Regions from separate parts of the Homo sapiens genome. Here region 1 is linked to region 2. Evidence: fine-mapped expression QTL. Tissue or cell type: tibial nerve. Region 2 holds a variant in brackets; the other region holds the start of a gene. All regions are shown on one strand. Distances are from middle to middle.

What was found. PIP is the estimated chance that this variant, and not a neighbour inherited with it, causes the effect.
Region 1: PPP1R14C starts here. The variant in region 2 is fine-mapped to the expression of PPP1R14C in tibial nerve (GTEx, PIP 0.99).

Annotation. Positions count from the first base shown.
Region 1 is chr6:150,139,869-150,147,972 of GRCh38, reverse strand. PPP1R14C (protein phosphatase 1 regulatory inhibitor subunit 14C) reads right to left here and starts at 4,929. Exons shown (of 4, transcript NM_030949.3): 1 at 4,475-4,929. The coding sequence starts at 4,780.
Region 2 is chr6:150,080,898-150,089,001 of GRCh38, reverse strand. No RefSeq gene overlaps it. Among named protein-coding and RNA genes, the nearest start is that of ULBP3, 16 kb to the right of the region's middle. The variant C/G (reference allele first, on the strand shown) is at 3,342.

The DNA.
Region 1 (8,104 bases), 59 kb before region 2:
CCCTATGACTCTCTGTTTCTCTGTATCCATGTGTCAGGCAGCAATCTATATATCCAGATGTATCAGGCAGCAATCAACAGGGTATTTCTTTCTGTGTCACCACCATCTCTCAGAAGACAGTTTTTATAAAATGGGGGTAATGGGGAGTCAGGGAAGACTGAAAGGTATAATAAGTCAGGAACCATTTTATAAAAAGCAGACACTGGAAGCAAAGGGAAAGACCTACTAAGGTGACAGTCAGAACAACACAGCAAGTACCCAAGGTACACAAGCCTGTTTATGGCTAGGATGCTACGGGCATTGCAATCATCTGAGCTTAGCAACATGTTTTTATTTCCAAAGCAAATTGAATTGCAAAACTGGAAGTACAGATGTTATCTTGATGCTGGGCAAACTTGGAAATATTCATATGACTTATCCAGTAAGTCATCTTGCAGTACTTGTTAAAGTAGATATTATGCCAGATTTCAAATGCTCTTAAAAACCACCAGGGTTGGCTGGGCGCGGTGGCTCATGCCTGTAATCCCAGCACTTTGGGAGGCTGAGGCAGTCGGATCATGAGATCAGGAGTTCGAGACCAGCCTGGCCAACATAGTGAAACCCTGTCTCTACTAAAAATACAAAAATTAGCCGGGCATGGTGGCACGCATCTGCAGCCCCAGCTACTCAGGAGGCAGAAGCAGGAGAATCGTTTGAACCCAGGAGGCGGAGGTTGCAGTGAGCTGAGATTGCGCCACTGCACTCTAGCCTAGGCCACAGAGAAAGACTTCATCTCAAAAAAACAAAAACAAAACAAAACAAAAAAAACCCACCAGGGTTTGGAAGAGATTAAAAAAAAAAAAAAAAGGTCTTTAAACAGAAATCCTTAAATGTGGATGTAGATGTAGATTTAGTCTAATGGTTACATTATAATCAAATTCCTAGCTGAAAATGTACCTGTATAAGCCTTCCCAAGAGAAGATGAGATGGAAAAGAACTATAAGCACATAACAAATCATTTTGGAATCCAATAAAAGCACTTATCTACGTATTCAAAAGGCTATTTGACGTGGTATTTTACAGTGCTGCCCTTAGACTGGGTAAGAGGGGACCACATCTCCGGGCCCCACTCCTGCCATAACCTGTCTTCCTGAAGACTTCCTAGGACAAAGTGGACACATCTATCCAGAACCAGTGCCCCTCCACTTGGTTTTAGTCTGTGATCCGGGTCCCCAGAATTCCCTTCTCAAATCCCAAGTAGCTTCTAGGGCATGAACAAGCTCCTCCCAGATCTGTTCTGGCCTAGGGGGACATCACCACTGGTGTGTGCAGAGGCATCATGGTCAAGGAGTGGCAGGTGCATACCAAGACTGGGCGTGCGAGTGGACACAGTGTCCTTTACCAGGTGGGACTGTACCAAGGATGGGAAGCAAAAGGGAAGAAACCCAGGCCAGGGCAGTCTCCTAACTGCATTTCAGTTCATGACTCTGGGAAGTAACATTTTGAATTCAAAATGCAAACCTAGACTTCAAGGTCATTATGAAGATGTAGCTGTCAAGATCAGTGGACAGAAGAAATTTTATACAAATGTTGTTAGTTTAACTCATAAGTTTTAAACATTTAGACAGATGTCTTGTAGACCTACATTTGCTCTCTTGCACGGTACAGACAGGCCTCATGGGTATACAGTGGACTCAGATTCCAGACTGGGTTCATCCTCAACCCCAACCCACCCACCAGCTACATGAGCTTGAAGCAGCCTTTTAATCCTCTCTGAGTCTTCACTTCTTTATTTACATTTAAACAAGGATAAAAAGAACATCTTCTTTATAGGGTTGTTATGAAGACTAAATGAATTAGCCCAAAGTACCTAGAAGAGCACCTAGTCACCTAGTAGGTAGGTAATAAATTCCCCTATGACATTATTCTCATACAAAACTGATTAGTCACTGCACACTTCCAGAAAAAAACACAGACAGAAAGTGGTTCTGTGTATTTCTTCTTTCCTCTTCCTCTTTCTAAATACATCACTTTACACTGCTCCAAAAGATTATTTTCTATTCTGAAAAGGTCAAGTCATCTGATTCCTAACCTGCTTGGGTCAAGTTCTTCTGAAATTAAAGATGTGTTCATATTCTACCCCAACTCAGCAGATAACTCAAGCCTTTGGCAGGTTTGAGGTTTGAAGGCTGGGAAATTGGCTGTGTCACTTTCATGGGCTAAACATTTGAAAGAATTACCACTTTTAAGTATAAAAAGGACATTTCCTAATCTTCGTATGCATGAAGTTCGGAGCTGTAAGCTAGGGTGCGTCCTTCTTGATTCACAAACCAGAGGCTGAAATACTTGAAGCTATCAACAAAGAAAGGTTACTCAACAAGAGAACCCAATGCTAAAAATAGAGCACTATCAGCAGAGAAATAGATGCAAAGAGACAAGCCTTTATTTGGCTACTTATTTGCCCATGTTTCTTTATTATTAAATGGAGGTACACCACCAGCATAGTGATTACAAATTGCCAACAACCTAATTATTTCTCTTCCTTCAGCCTACAATGACTGAACAAACAACTTGAAGAAAAATACTTGCCACGTTAATGACATGCAGGCAGCATATAGAGCATCTTGAATTATTTCACCACAAAAACCTCCCTTTCAAATGTCTAGCTGTTTGCTACGGGTTGAAGATTTAAAACCCAAGAAGAAAAGTACAATACAAGGAAAAGATTCAAGCTCATGTTTACCCTTTAAAATATATACCTAACCTACATGTTCCACACAGGAAACAATCAAACCTCCATTTTTTCTAATTATTCTGAAGTATTTTTTAAATATATTGTTTATCAGGCTACTCAGTGGGTAGAGCTCTTTCTAGCTTCCCAATCTAAGCCTAATTAGTCTCCCACAAAAAGAACCATGCTGGTGCACTGTTAATTTCAACAATGCTTTTTCTATTAATTCGAATCTTTTCCAAATCCCAAATGGAGAAAAAAAAAACAGTATGAAATAAATGAAAATTAACTGGATTCTACAGAGGCAGGACTGAGCACATCCACTCATCCAACAGTAATCCCATCTACATCAAATAATGTTTCTTTACAGAGTTTTGCCAACTTCCTATAAAAATCTCATGAATACTTCTTATGTTTGCCAGTTTTTATTTATGCAATTAAATTAGCTTTTTGTAAGAGCTGGACTGGAGAAACAACACATTTTTACAACCCCATTAGTCATACAGTCAAGCTTCATTATATTATAATCATTTATCAGTAGTCAGTAACGAGTATGCTGTTTTCTTGTGCAATGAGGGTGTTTAAGAAAACGTGTCTTCACAACAGGCCATGAAATGTGTCAAATACAGAACACCCGACATTAGTGGTAAAGCCTGTGAGTTCATCTGGTTGTCATCTCTGTTGAAGAGCACAACAGTTGAATGAACACAAACCTAGCTTTAGCTTAGAAGCCACATTCTTAATTATTAACCCCTTCATGCTTCCACCCTTTCCAAACTCCACTCCCTTAAGAGGAGGTCACTTCATTTAGAATTAATAACTGTTATTCAAGATGCTCATGAGAGATCATTTTGGCTTCAGTCGTTTTGCTGCAGTTTATTCTACATATTTCTCCCTAAATCAAATGTATACACGTCCCTGAGACTTGTGTATGACCTTAGTCCCTGGACCTTGGGAAGTCACGATGTCGTGGAGGAGAGGGGAGCTGGGAGCCTGAAGCTGACAGATCCCGGGATCCCGCAGGCCCCCCGCAGGGCTCCCGCCCTTCCACCGAGGCACCCGTCGAGGTTGCCCCAGATGCTCATTCTGCGCCCATCAATGGGAGTAACTGAGCTTAGAGAGGAAAAACTACGGCTTCAACAAAGCACAACGTGTGCAGCTCTGATAATGCAGGGCGGAATTATGGAGACACCGTCGGGGCTGGCTGGAAAGCGGAAAGCGTTCCATCTCAGGATTTTCACGGGGAATTTCAAGAACCAAGGGGGCCTCTGAGATCCCCAGAACCTCTCCTTTCCACGAGGCAGCTTCCTTCCTTCCCTGCTCGTTCTCCACAAAAATCAGGGCTGCCCGGATCCCAGCAGTGAGCGCTGCTCTCTTTGGCTGCTGTATCCCCAACCGCTGCTGAGGCGCAGCTGGAGTGAGCCCCTCCGAGCCCCGCTTTGCGCAGCTGCAGCTGGAGCCCAGAGGCGCCCGGAGCTCGGAGAAAAGCACTGTGCTCCGCGGGACCCAACCCTCCCCACGGCCACCAAGGGGGCCCGCAGATCCCCGGGCACCGGCAGCCGAACCCAGACAGGGGCGTCCCAACCGCTGAGCCCGACGCCAGAGGGCACCGCGGGGGAGAGAAGGCGCCGCGCCTCGCTCCTGGCACTTGGTCCCCGGGAGTCAGGGACATGCGCGCCCCGGAGCTGGAGCCCGGGAAAATTACTGCGCGGGCACAGAGGAGCTAGAGAGGTCCCCGACCCTCCCAGCCCCGCGCCCAGGTACCTCGCAGCCGTAGAGCTGACCCAGCTGCTCCACGATCCATTCCTCCAGCACCAGCCGCTTCCGAAGCTCCTTACGATCGTATTTCACTGTCACTTTTCCCTGCTGGTGTCGCCGCTGCTGTTGCTGCTGAACCTGCCCTGCAGCGGCCGCCGTGGCCACGGGCGCCGAGTCCTCCCGGGAGGAGCCTGAGCCGCTGCTGGAGCCGGGGCTGCCACCGGCGCCACCCCGGGGGCTTTGGAAGAAAACCCGTGCGCCGCCGCCGCTGGCCCCGCCGGCCGTCTCGCTGCTGCCCGTCGCCACCGACATGTCCCCGCGCGCCCGAGCCTCAGTGCGGCCCGGAGGAGGGGCGGGCGGAGCGCGCCCGGCGCCGCTACCACCTCCGGCCCGGCAGCCGCATGCGAAGGGCTCCCCGGCACCTGCTCTGCGCCGCGCGCGCCCAGCCGCCCGGCTGCTCTGGGAGGGCGGGAGGAGCCGCGGCGAGAGGGAGGAGGGCGGGGAGGACGACGGGGCGGGGACCGCAGCCTTAAAGAAGCCGCCGAGGACCCTCTCGGTCCAGCCCCCAGAGGCGGGATCTGGCGCCTGCGGCAGAGAGGGCCCGGGGCGTGGGAGTCTCCGCGGGGCGGGAAATGTGTGCGCCTAGACACGGGAGGTCGCCGATGTGTAGACTCCGGAAGGACGGGCGTGGGGCGGGGTGCCAGGGGATGCTCCTGCGCGGGTGTCCGTGGCCTCTAGTCTCGGAGACAGGGACTCACGCTTCTCCCGCAATCCCGGAGCGCAGGAAACGCGCCGCCTCTCGGGGCCTCCACCTGGCGCGGCCCCGGGCAGGACCCGCAGCGAAGGGGACACAGGAAAGGACCGCGCCGCAGGCTCCCCCAGGAGGTTTTCCTAGCCCCACCGTCTCCTCTGTTGGCTGGGTAGCGTCCCCTCCCCTCCAGCCCCGCCCCACGGCTCCAAACACACATTCCTATTCATGCCACGATGGATGCCACTTCCTCTCTGGATTGTGAGAAACATCGAAGAGGCGATGTTTGTGCAATAAGGCAGTCACGGCGCTTGAGAAATTATTTCCAGACCAATGTTTTCTTTCCTTACTAAGCGTCTGCTTAATCATGGGCACAGCATTCGGATATCTTCGTATCCAAAGGGCAGAAAGCGTGACGGCGCTCAGGCAAGGCGTCTGGGGGCATCCAGACAGTAAACATTTCTCTAAGAGGGTCGGCGACAGGGTCCTGGTTTCACATTTCTAGTGTTGCGTCCCGTGCACTGCCAGCTTTCTCTCCATCCCATTCCAAACAGCCCCTTCCACCCAGGAGGGCAACAGCACTGCCTGACTCTACTGCAAAACATCACAGCCTAGTAGTTACACATGAAGGAGCTTCTCAGAAGGGTTAGGACAATAAGGTGGGGAGGGAAGTTGTAAACAGAAAACTGCATGTGTAAAATTAGGGAGACACTAACATATTCTTCTTGTACACAACAATACATTCCTGTTCAGGAACTGATAGAAACCACAGAGACGTCCGAATGAATACAAGTAAGCGGCTTTTAGTAACGGTTTTGTTTTGTTTTGTTTTTTGAGACGGAGTCTCTCTGTTGCCCAGGCTGGGGAGCAGTGGCGAGATCTCGGCTCACTGCAACCTCTGACTTCGGGGTTCAAGCGATTCTCCTGCCTCACCCTCCTGAAGAGCTGGGATTACAGGCTTTCGCCACCACACCAAGCTAATTTTTGTATTTTTAGTAGAGACAGGGTTTCACCATGTTGGTCATTCTGGTCTCGAACTCCTGACCTCATGATCCGCCCGCCTGGGCCTCCCAAAGTGCTGGGATTACAGGTGTGAGCCACCGCGCCTGGCCATGAACTTTTTTTGTTTGTTTGTTGTTGTTGTTGTTTTTAAATAAAAGAGCCCTAAAGGTTACTGGCAGCTACTCAAAGAAGTTTCTCAGAGATAAAATAGATACCAAGTCAAATTCCTCGGAACACTTTCCTATGATGGAGAAGATCCTGTGTGGGGTTCTAGACTGACACTACAAAGACAAAATAAAAGTAACCAGCAGGTTTCTCCTGGCGCTTCAGGCTCTGCGATCCACCAGCGCCCAGCTCTGCTCTACCCAGGCTTAGGATCCATTGCCTTTGTACCCTCAGTCTGGGGTTTTCCAGTGAGAGCCTGAATAGGGATTTTCCCAAAGTGTTCCATGCCTGCGGCTCTTCACAGGGACATGTCAAGCCTCACAATGTGAAGGGGAAGGATCTGCGGAGATTGAAATAGGGTGGCTGGTGTGGGGCCCTGGACTCCTGCCATAATTACAAAGGGGTCAAAGCTGAACGATCTCTGCCCCGCTAGAAGAGGCCAGCTGCCCTTTAGAAGATGGGTTTTGCACCGAGCCTATCAGGGACAAGGGAGATGAATTACCTTGATTGCCCCTAGAGACCGATGACCAGTCTCTGCACCACCTCTGCCCCTCTGCCTTTAGGGTGGGTCACTGTAAACCCCGAACACACAGCCAAGAGAGTGACCACCTCAAAATGGAACTCTGTCTGCAAGGAGGAAGGGAAAGGAGGGCAGGAACCAGCCCCAGCATCTCCCACACAGAATCAGCTTATATGGCTCCAGACATCTGGCCAAGTCCGCTAGCACCAGCTTTGACCAACTGCACTAATCAGGAGAATGCAAATCAGAACGAAAACAGCTTAAATGTTATTAACAAAGGAGAAACTACATAAAATCTCTACCTCATTCTGGCCCTGGGACCTGACAATACCTATTGTGCCATCCCACAGTTTGGCAAAGTCTGGGGAATTCCAACTCCTTTCTTTAAGTCTTTGGACAACGAAATCAGTCATTCAAGGATAACGTCAAATAATTTTAAAAAATTCACTAAGTTCTTTCTGAGAAATTCTGATGTCAATTTTTTTCTCACAGCATAAGATGCTTTTTCCTTTATGCTTAAAACTCAATTTTCCCTTACAACTCCAAAATGACAGATACTAAAAGACATGGGTTTTAAGCATCTTGACTCACAGAAGAAAATCCAGGAAATAGTCTCTTTCCACAGGTACGCTGGCCTTCAGATGTTCAAGTGAGTCACCTTGACTGGCAAATAGAATTGAACCAGGGTTCCTCTTTCTTTAAATCCATTTGCTCCACCCAGTACGTAATTTATATTCAAAGTGAAGTCCATATCATCTCCTCTACCCCCAGACACACACACTTCATTCCAGGTTTGAATAATCAAAACTTAATGGCCTCATTTTGACAGATAGAAATACTGCTTTTGCAGATTTCAAATATTGAAGCCAAAATATTTAGGAATAAAGGAATTTTTCCTAGTCCAGAGACCCTTTACATAGCTGACTATTTAAATTCGGCAAAACCAGTGGTATTTCTCATCTACAAAACCAATAATATATACATTTATTCAAGGAAAACATTTTTATTTCTAGCCTATTTAGTCAAGTGTTTTTAGGTGCTGGTTAATCTAAGACAGTGAATAGCTTTCAGTGAATTGAATGGTCCGGAATCAACTTTTACCTGAAGGCAATTACTCCCTGCTATGAGAGGGCAGCCTAAGGATGTTTCATTTGAATCTTTTTCTTCGTAGTTTTGTGTTTTCTTAGCTTGGTTATGTTTT
Region 2 (8,104 bases):
GCTCATGCTCAGGCCATCACCTGCTGCCTCCCTGTTGGAGGCTGAGAGAGAACATCTGCCCTGCAGGCTCCGCCCTCCCACTGTGGAGCTTAAGGGAGCGCTGTGCTTCACATGGTGCAGGTGTCCCATGAGTGGTAACCCCCTCCCTCTCCCCCTTCCCCTCCCTCCACCACTGATGGCTGTAGCTCCTCCAGTCTACCAGACCCTTGCAAATAGTCCAGCTCCTGCCCAGCCTTTGAGAAGCAGGAACTGGTGACGGTCATCCCATCCTGACACTTCCCCCTCTTCGCTGCTGTGGCCACTTGCTGTCCCCTGGCCACAAGATGTGAGCTTTTCATAGAGTCCCTGAATGGTTCTGTATTGCTGGTCACAAAAGATCTTTGTTTGTTTGGTTGGTTGGTTGGTTTTTTGAGTTTTTTTGTTTTTTTTTTTCTTTGAGATGGAGTCTCGCTCTGTCACTCAGGCTGGAGAGCAAGTGGTACAAACTCTGCTCACTGTAACCTCTGCCTCCCGGGTTCAAGTGATTCTCCTGCCTCAGCCTCCTGAGTAGCTGGGATTGATTACAGGCACATGCCACCACATCCAGCTAATTTTATTATTATTATTATTTTATATATATATATATATATTTTTTTTTTTGAGACGGAGTCTTGCTCTGTCACCCAGGCTGGAGTGCAGTGGCACGATCTCAGCTCACTGCAAGCTCTGCCTCCTGGGTTCACGCCATTCTTCCACCTTAGCATCCTGAGTAGCTGGGACTACAGGCGCCCGCCACCATGCTCAGCTAATTTTTGTATTTTTAGTAGAGACAGGGTTTCACCATGTTAGCCAGGATGGTCTCAATCTCCTGACCTCGTGATCCACCCGCCTCGGCCTCCTAAAGTGCTGGTATTACAGGCGTGAGCCACTGTGCCCAGCCAATTTTTTTATTTTTAATAGAGATGGGGTTTCGCCACGTTGACCAGGCTGGTCTCGAACTCCTGACCTCAAGTGATCTGCCTGCCTCTGCCTCCCAAAGTGCTGGGATTACAAGTGTGAGCCACCGTGCCTGGCCTGGTTATAAAAGATCTTATTAACACTGGGCTACAAGTGAAATGATGGAAAGACAGCAAATCAGTTGCAGGAAATATTCTGAGAATTTCTTTTAGAAGTCATAGGGACCCCAGAGAGAACATTTCATTTGATGACAAGCGATCTGGGTTCAAAAGCAACCTCTGTTACTAACTAGTGTGACCCTGGGCCTGTGCATTCACCTTCCAATGTTTCTTTCCTCACCTAAGAAATGTAGTAAATAATATTTCCTGAGCAACCTGCAACTTGAAAGTCAACAAGTGCCTCCCATAGAAAGAGCTGCACAAACAAAGGTTGTCTTTGAGAGGGCAGAGGGAGAGCTGTGCAAGGGAAGGACAGGACTGTGGAGGGTGTCTGACCTTCCATATGGCTCCTGCTCTGCTCAGTTCAGCCCAAAGGCAGAGCCAATACAGATTTCCCAGCCACAGGCGCCAGCACACCTACTTGTAGGGGCCTGTCCTTCCTACAACAGCAGTGGGTGCCCAGAATCCTGCCTCCCTAAAACTATATTCACTCTGTCTACATAGCTTTCAAAGTACATGTTCTGATGCAGTAGGTTTAAAAATCAGCCTTTTTATATGTCTTTTCCCTTTGCTGTGGCTCTATCATGCAAAGCCTCATTGGGAGCTGGCTAATACAGCTCACACTCTGTGAAAGACTTGCGGCTCATCCCAGATGACCACTTACACATTCTCACCAACCACATATGAACAGAGGAGCATCTTGTAGAAAGACCGAACCCATGCCCTCCCCTCTTCCCCAGCCTGGAATGAAGTAGCCACGTTTACAGAGGAAAAAGACATAAAAATCAGCTTTTTCAACACTGTCAGCACTATGGGTGGTTTCTTTCTAAAGCCAGAAAATTTGGTAAAAATGAAGGGCAGCTTAAATTTGACTTGGTGAAGCCAAGGGAGAGACAAACATAGTTATCCTAAGCAGTACTGCAGCAAAGTAAGGTATGATTGCTTCCATTCTTTGAAGATAACTCCAGCCACCATTTTTCTCAGAAGTCCTAACTTTTGCATTATGTGTGGGTATGAACTTATATACCCACGAATATTTATAATTCCAAGATGCAACACTCACGCTTGCATTTTCTAAAGTCAAAGGCATGGAAATGTCTGTGACGCTGTGCTGGAAATCAGATAACTTGCTAGCTGCGTATCACAAAGGAAATGCAAAGAAAACAAAGGATCTACAATTGTTAACTTAATGTCCCCTGTCACTCAAGGGACTTTTGAGAAACACAATTTATAACTGTATTAATCTTTTCCAAACACAGACTTCAAAAATAAGCAATAACCTACTCTGATAATAACTATATAGCTATGAAAAAAATCACTCATTGAATCATAATTTGATTAGTCCTTTTTCAGGAGGCTCTGCGATAAAACTTTGCTTTATATACAGGATCACAGACTTTTGGAGATTGATGAAGGCTTGTTCTATTCCCTAATTTCGTATTCAGATGAGCAAAGTTGACCTGGAACAGTCAACTGGCTGTTCCAGGGTCACCCAGCAATAGTGGGCAAGGGAGAGCAGAACCCGCCCACTACTCTGACACTGGCGTCCCTCCGTTGCCCCACCTGTATACAGCAAGCATTTATTTATTATCACCCCATTTGCTCCACGGAAGATGAAATACATAAAAGCCTCCATACCAGGACCAACAAAGCCTACCTAATGAAAAGAGACAGGTCGCAAAGCATTTGGCAGGAACGGAGTCATTTCAGGTGGTGACTGGTTTTAGTCTAATTTATTTCTGAGTGAGGAAGATGCATTGATTCATTTTTCTGTCAACCTAGTCATACCACTAGCTTTTCATCATCGTACATATCCATTTGTTACATGTTCTTACCAATGCAAGTTCCTGTTCACAAGTATTTCAAACATCAAGATTTTAAAATGTGTCTTGAACCTAAAACCATTTTTATCATTACAACCTCAACTTATAAACAGGTTGTGTTCAGAAGTCCATTTGCACATCATTTTTGTTTTATTTATTTATTTTTAACTTTTTTTTTTTTTTTGAGACGGAGTCTCGCTCTGTTGGTGGAGCTGGAGTGCAGTGGCGCGATCTCGGCTCACTGCAAGCTCCACCTCCCGGGTTCACACCATTCTCCTGCCTCAGCCTCCCGAATAGCTGGGACTACAGGCGCCCGCCACCACGCCCGGCTAATTTTGTTTTTGTATTTTTAGTAGAGATGGGGTTTCACCGTGTTAGCCAAGATGGTCTCTATCTCCTGACCTCGTGATCTGCCCGCCTCGGC[C/G]TCCCAAAGTGCTGGGATTACAGGCGTGAGCCACCGCGCCCTGCCTATTTTTAACTTTTTGAGACTGAGTCTCACTCTGTTGCCCAGGCAGGAGTTCAGTGGCATGATATTGGCTCACTGCAACATCTGCCTCCCAGGCTCAAGCAATCCTCCCACCTCATCCTCCCAAGTAGGTGGACCATAGGGGCACACCACTATGCCTGGCTAATTTTTTGTATTTTTGGTAGAGATGGGATCTCACCATGTTGCCCAGGCTAGTCTCGAACTCCTGAGCTCAAGCAGTCCACCCACCTTGGCCTCCCAGAATGCTTGGGATTAAAGGCGAGAGACACCACACCTGGCCTTGCACTTCATGTTTAGAACCTGGAACTTACTTTCTACCAGAAAGGATTCTAAAAATAGAAATTAGGTGCCCAGCCAGGTCTTCCCAGGAGTCTAACCCACAAAGCCCATAGAGTCACTCAAGCGGCCCCCCAAGCACTCACGACCCGGGAATCTGAGCCCCTCCTCTTTCCTGCTTCTCCTTCATTCAGGTGAGGACAGTAGTAGGAATCCAGCCCTTTTCCTCTCCCAAAGTCCACTAAAAGAAAACCCAGAGAGCACACCTGAAATGGAACCTCTTCCATGTGACTGAGAGCCAGTTCAGCTGCGGTGTGGCCAAGATTTTCATTTGGATTCCTCCTGCTGCTGGGGGACAAACGGCTCCCCTAGAGCCTCCTTCCTCAGACCAATTGGCTGTGGGCCTTTTGCACTGGAAATTCAGGAAAATCTCGTAGTACAAATCTAGCTGACAATGAAGGTTCCTGAAAGTTCTACCACTCTCTTCCTAATTCCAACAAGATAAACAGTTTATACCCACCTCAGTGAGATAAATATGGGCTTTGGAGCCAGACGAAACATGAGTCTAAATCTCTGCCTTCCACTTTCTAGTGAAGTGTCTAGTGTCTCCGTGAGACAGTGCATATGTGGACGCTTTTATCCCTGGTGTCTGGTGCTCCCCACGCTATGGCACCAATCTCCCTCAGGAGTCTCCCTCCTCCCAGCAGCATTTCCGGTCACCAGATGCAATGAAAACGGAGAGAAAGGTAAAGTGAGAAACACTAAACAAAGGAATGGTGATACGGCACAGGTTTCTCTTAGGGCTTAATTCTTCACAGTGTCATGGGGTGAAGAAGGGGAGCTCTCTTTCCCAGGAGGATGGAGGAAGAAAGGAAGGCAGGTTCTGTGATCCCCACAAGACCTGGGACTCCCTGCTCACCAAGCCCCATTCTCACTTGGCTTTCCCAAGTGTGCTGAAAGGAAGGATCACAAATACTTGGGAAGGTGAAAGAATAAAACACACTCCACCAGCCTGAGCTCCATCCTGCCTTTAGAACTACTGATAAACATCAGGGATTTTTCTGTGCTAGCAAGGAGGGACATAAGTCTAATCATGCACATCTGTTTTACAAAGTTATCCATCTCCTTCTCCCAGCAAACCCCTCTGATTTGAGTTCTACTGCAAATGCCAACCACCTCTGCAGGGTTTCCCATGATGCCTCATTCATTCAGCAGAGGCACATTAACCACCTATGATGTGTTCATCACTGTGCCCAGTGCTGGAGTCACCAACCACAGGCCATGCAGATAAGGCAGAGGGCAAGTGTGCTAGCTTGAGATTGGACTTGCTCCTGGGCAGCCCACCTCCGTTCCTTACCAAAGTGCCTTCAATCGCTGGACTCCAGGTTTCAGGCTCCACCACTTCACACAGCCCTTCACACTCCACTTTTACATGTCTCTGTCACCGAGGGACTGGGACATGCAATCCCTTGCTTGAGTCACATGGTTGGTTAGTGGCACAACAGGAACTAGAATCATGGACCCTCCTGTGCTCCTCCCTGGACCACTAGACCAGGCTTCCTTTGAATTGTCTACTTGGTCAAGGCTGAGGTTGAAAGTAGGAAGACATAGCCAAAGTTTAATGGAAGAAGGAAGGTGTATGAAGCCCAAATCACATCCACACATCAGTTTTCTCCTTGTGCTTTAGTTTCCTTGGATGTGAAATGAAATTGATAAATGAGAATCCGGTCTCCAGATGATTCTCCTGAACTGCCCCTCCTGGCAGAAGAGCAGGAGTGAGTATATGTTTTGCTCCTAAGGACCAAAACCCAGCCCACAGCAGCCCTCTACAAAGCAGTAATTTTTTGATGTTCCTTGTTTTCACTGAAAAAGAAAATCAAGTCCAGTTCTGCATTTTACACCGTAGTACAGTTGGATTTGTTTTAATATAAACAAATATGAATACGCTTATCCTGTACAAATTTTTGACCAAAATGAGTCTCTGGAGCAATGCACCAGCTGACCCTGTGGTTTCTTGCACTTTTGTCACTCATCTGAGTCCTAACGGGTACATGGCTCAGTGTGAGATGTGGAGACTTACACATCTCCTAAATCTCACCCGCACATCATGCAGGCGTACACTTGAGCTTCAAATAAAAAGCTGGGGAGTCACACTCAGGTTTGGATAATGAGTACCGAGAAGAGATCAATTCAATAATGATTTTTGCATTTATATGTGCTCCATATAAATGACCTCCCCCTTGCACCCACGCCAGCTTGGCCCAGGACCCAAGATACCCCTGGAAGAGGTTCAGTCAGGTGCCAGGCAGAGTTGTCCGCTGGAAAGAAACACACCTGCTCCCGCTTAACAAACTAGCATACCGTGGATCTTCACAATAATGTGGAACAATGAGGGATTGCTTTTCAATGTTTAAAATCACTCCATCATTTACTAATCACTAAAAAGTTTATTGTCAACTTCTTGTGAAAAGCAACCACACTTCTTTTTGATAGCTCTTAGTAACCAAAACTTTTTTTTTTTTTTTGAGACGGAGTCTCGCTCCATCGCCCAGGCTGGAGTGCAGTGGCGCGATCTCCACTCACCGCAAGCTCCGCCTCCCGGGTTCACGCCATTCTCCTGCCTCAGCCTCCCGAGTAACTGGGAATATGGGTGCCCGCCACCACTCCCAGCTAATTTTTTGTGTTTTTTTTTTTTTTTATATAGACGGGGTTTCACCGTGTTAGCCAGGATGGTCTCAATCTCCTGACCTCGTGATCCACCCGCCTCAGCCTCCCAAAGTGCTGGGATTACAGGCGTGAGAGCCACCGCGCCCAGCCAGTAACCAAAACATTTTAAAAATTGTATTTAAGCACTTCCTTTTGTAGGGTAGCTAATGCACTGTGCAGGTATCTGCTCAGATTTTGGAATTTTCATATGTTCTCTCTGTGGGATGGATGGATCCCTCATCCATCCACTGAGTTAGAACTGGTAAGAGTTTCCAGCCTTCTGATTTTCTGAACACGCAGTGCCGAGGTTAAGATGGAGGGCAGGAGTTAGTGGGAACCCTTTTGTTATCTATGAGGCTTCATTTGCCTAACTTTCATCATTTCTGAACCTCCATAAGGGCAGTTTATTGTATTATAAAAGGTTATTTGCATAAAAATCTTCATTTGTTTTCTTGAAATTATGTTAACAGAAAAAACAGCACACGACAGTATAAACACCTCTCACACAAACAGCTATCAAGAGATAATTTAAATGTTTTCTAGGGAGGCCGAGGTGAACAAATCGCTTGAGGCCAGAAGTTCAAGACCAGCCTGGCCAACATGGTGAAATGCTATCTCTACTAAAAATACAAAAATTAGCTGGGTGTGGTGGTACATGCCTGTAATTTCAGCTACTGCCGCGAGGGGGTGGGGGTTGGGGGTTGGGGGCTGAGGCAAGAGGATTGCATGAGCCCAGGAGGCAGAGTTTGCAGTGAGCTGAGATTGCCTGGGTGACAGAGAGAGACCCTGTCTAAAAAAAAAAAAAAAAAAAAATTTAAATTTAACATTTATGAGGGCCTTTTTTCTATGAAGTTGCCTGTATTTCCATTTTTTTTTTCAAAAAGTATATCTGTATTGGAGTTAAAAATGGTTTGATGGAATAATATTTCAACTAACTGAAATTATATTTTAATTATTATCCATCTCCAATATTTATTATAGTCCTAGTGTACAGTTTGTTGAGCCCATATTTTCCCTGAGGACTGAAGTCACTGTGAGTAAACTGCCACAAGGTTATTTTATTTCTGGAGGTTGTCTCCCCTAAGTACTGTGAAAACCTATCCTCTTGACGGGGTGCCAACATGGACATTTTCTCATTCACCGAGTAGGAGAAGTCTGCAGGCACTTTTCATTATTTAAGAATTCATGGCCCGGCGCGGTGGCTCATGCCTGTAATTTGGAAGGCCGAGGCAGGCGGATCACGAGGTCGGGAGATCGAGACCATCCTGGCTAACACGGTGAAACCCCACCTCTACTAAAAATACAAAAAAATTAGCCGGTGCGGTGGCGGACACCTGTAGTCCCAGCTACTCGGGAGGCTGAGGCAGGAGAATGGTGTGAACCCGGGAGGCGGAGCTTGCAGTGAGCCGGGATCCCGCCACTGCACTCCAGCCTGGGTGACAGAGCGAGACTCCGTCTCAGAAAAAAAAAAAAAAAAGAATTCACAGCAAAAGATAAAAGCTTTTATTTTTGTTATTTATTTTTGTTTTATGAACGTGGCCCTTTCAGCTTTATAAGAACAATCCATATCGGTGTGCGAAAACCACACACAACCACTCTCCCGAGGAACACACATCCAGGTAGCCGAAGCCTGAATGAAACAGTATGTTTGCCCTTGGTTTTCATGGAAGCCTCAGGTCCTCCTACCGCCTCCCCAAGGCCTGTGCTCATAGCTTTTC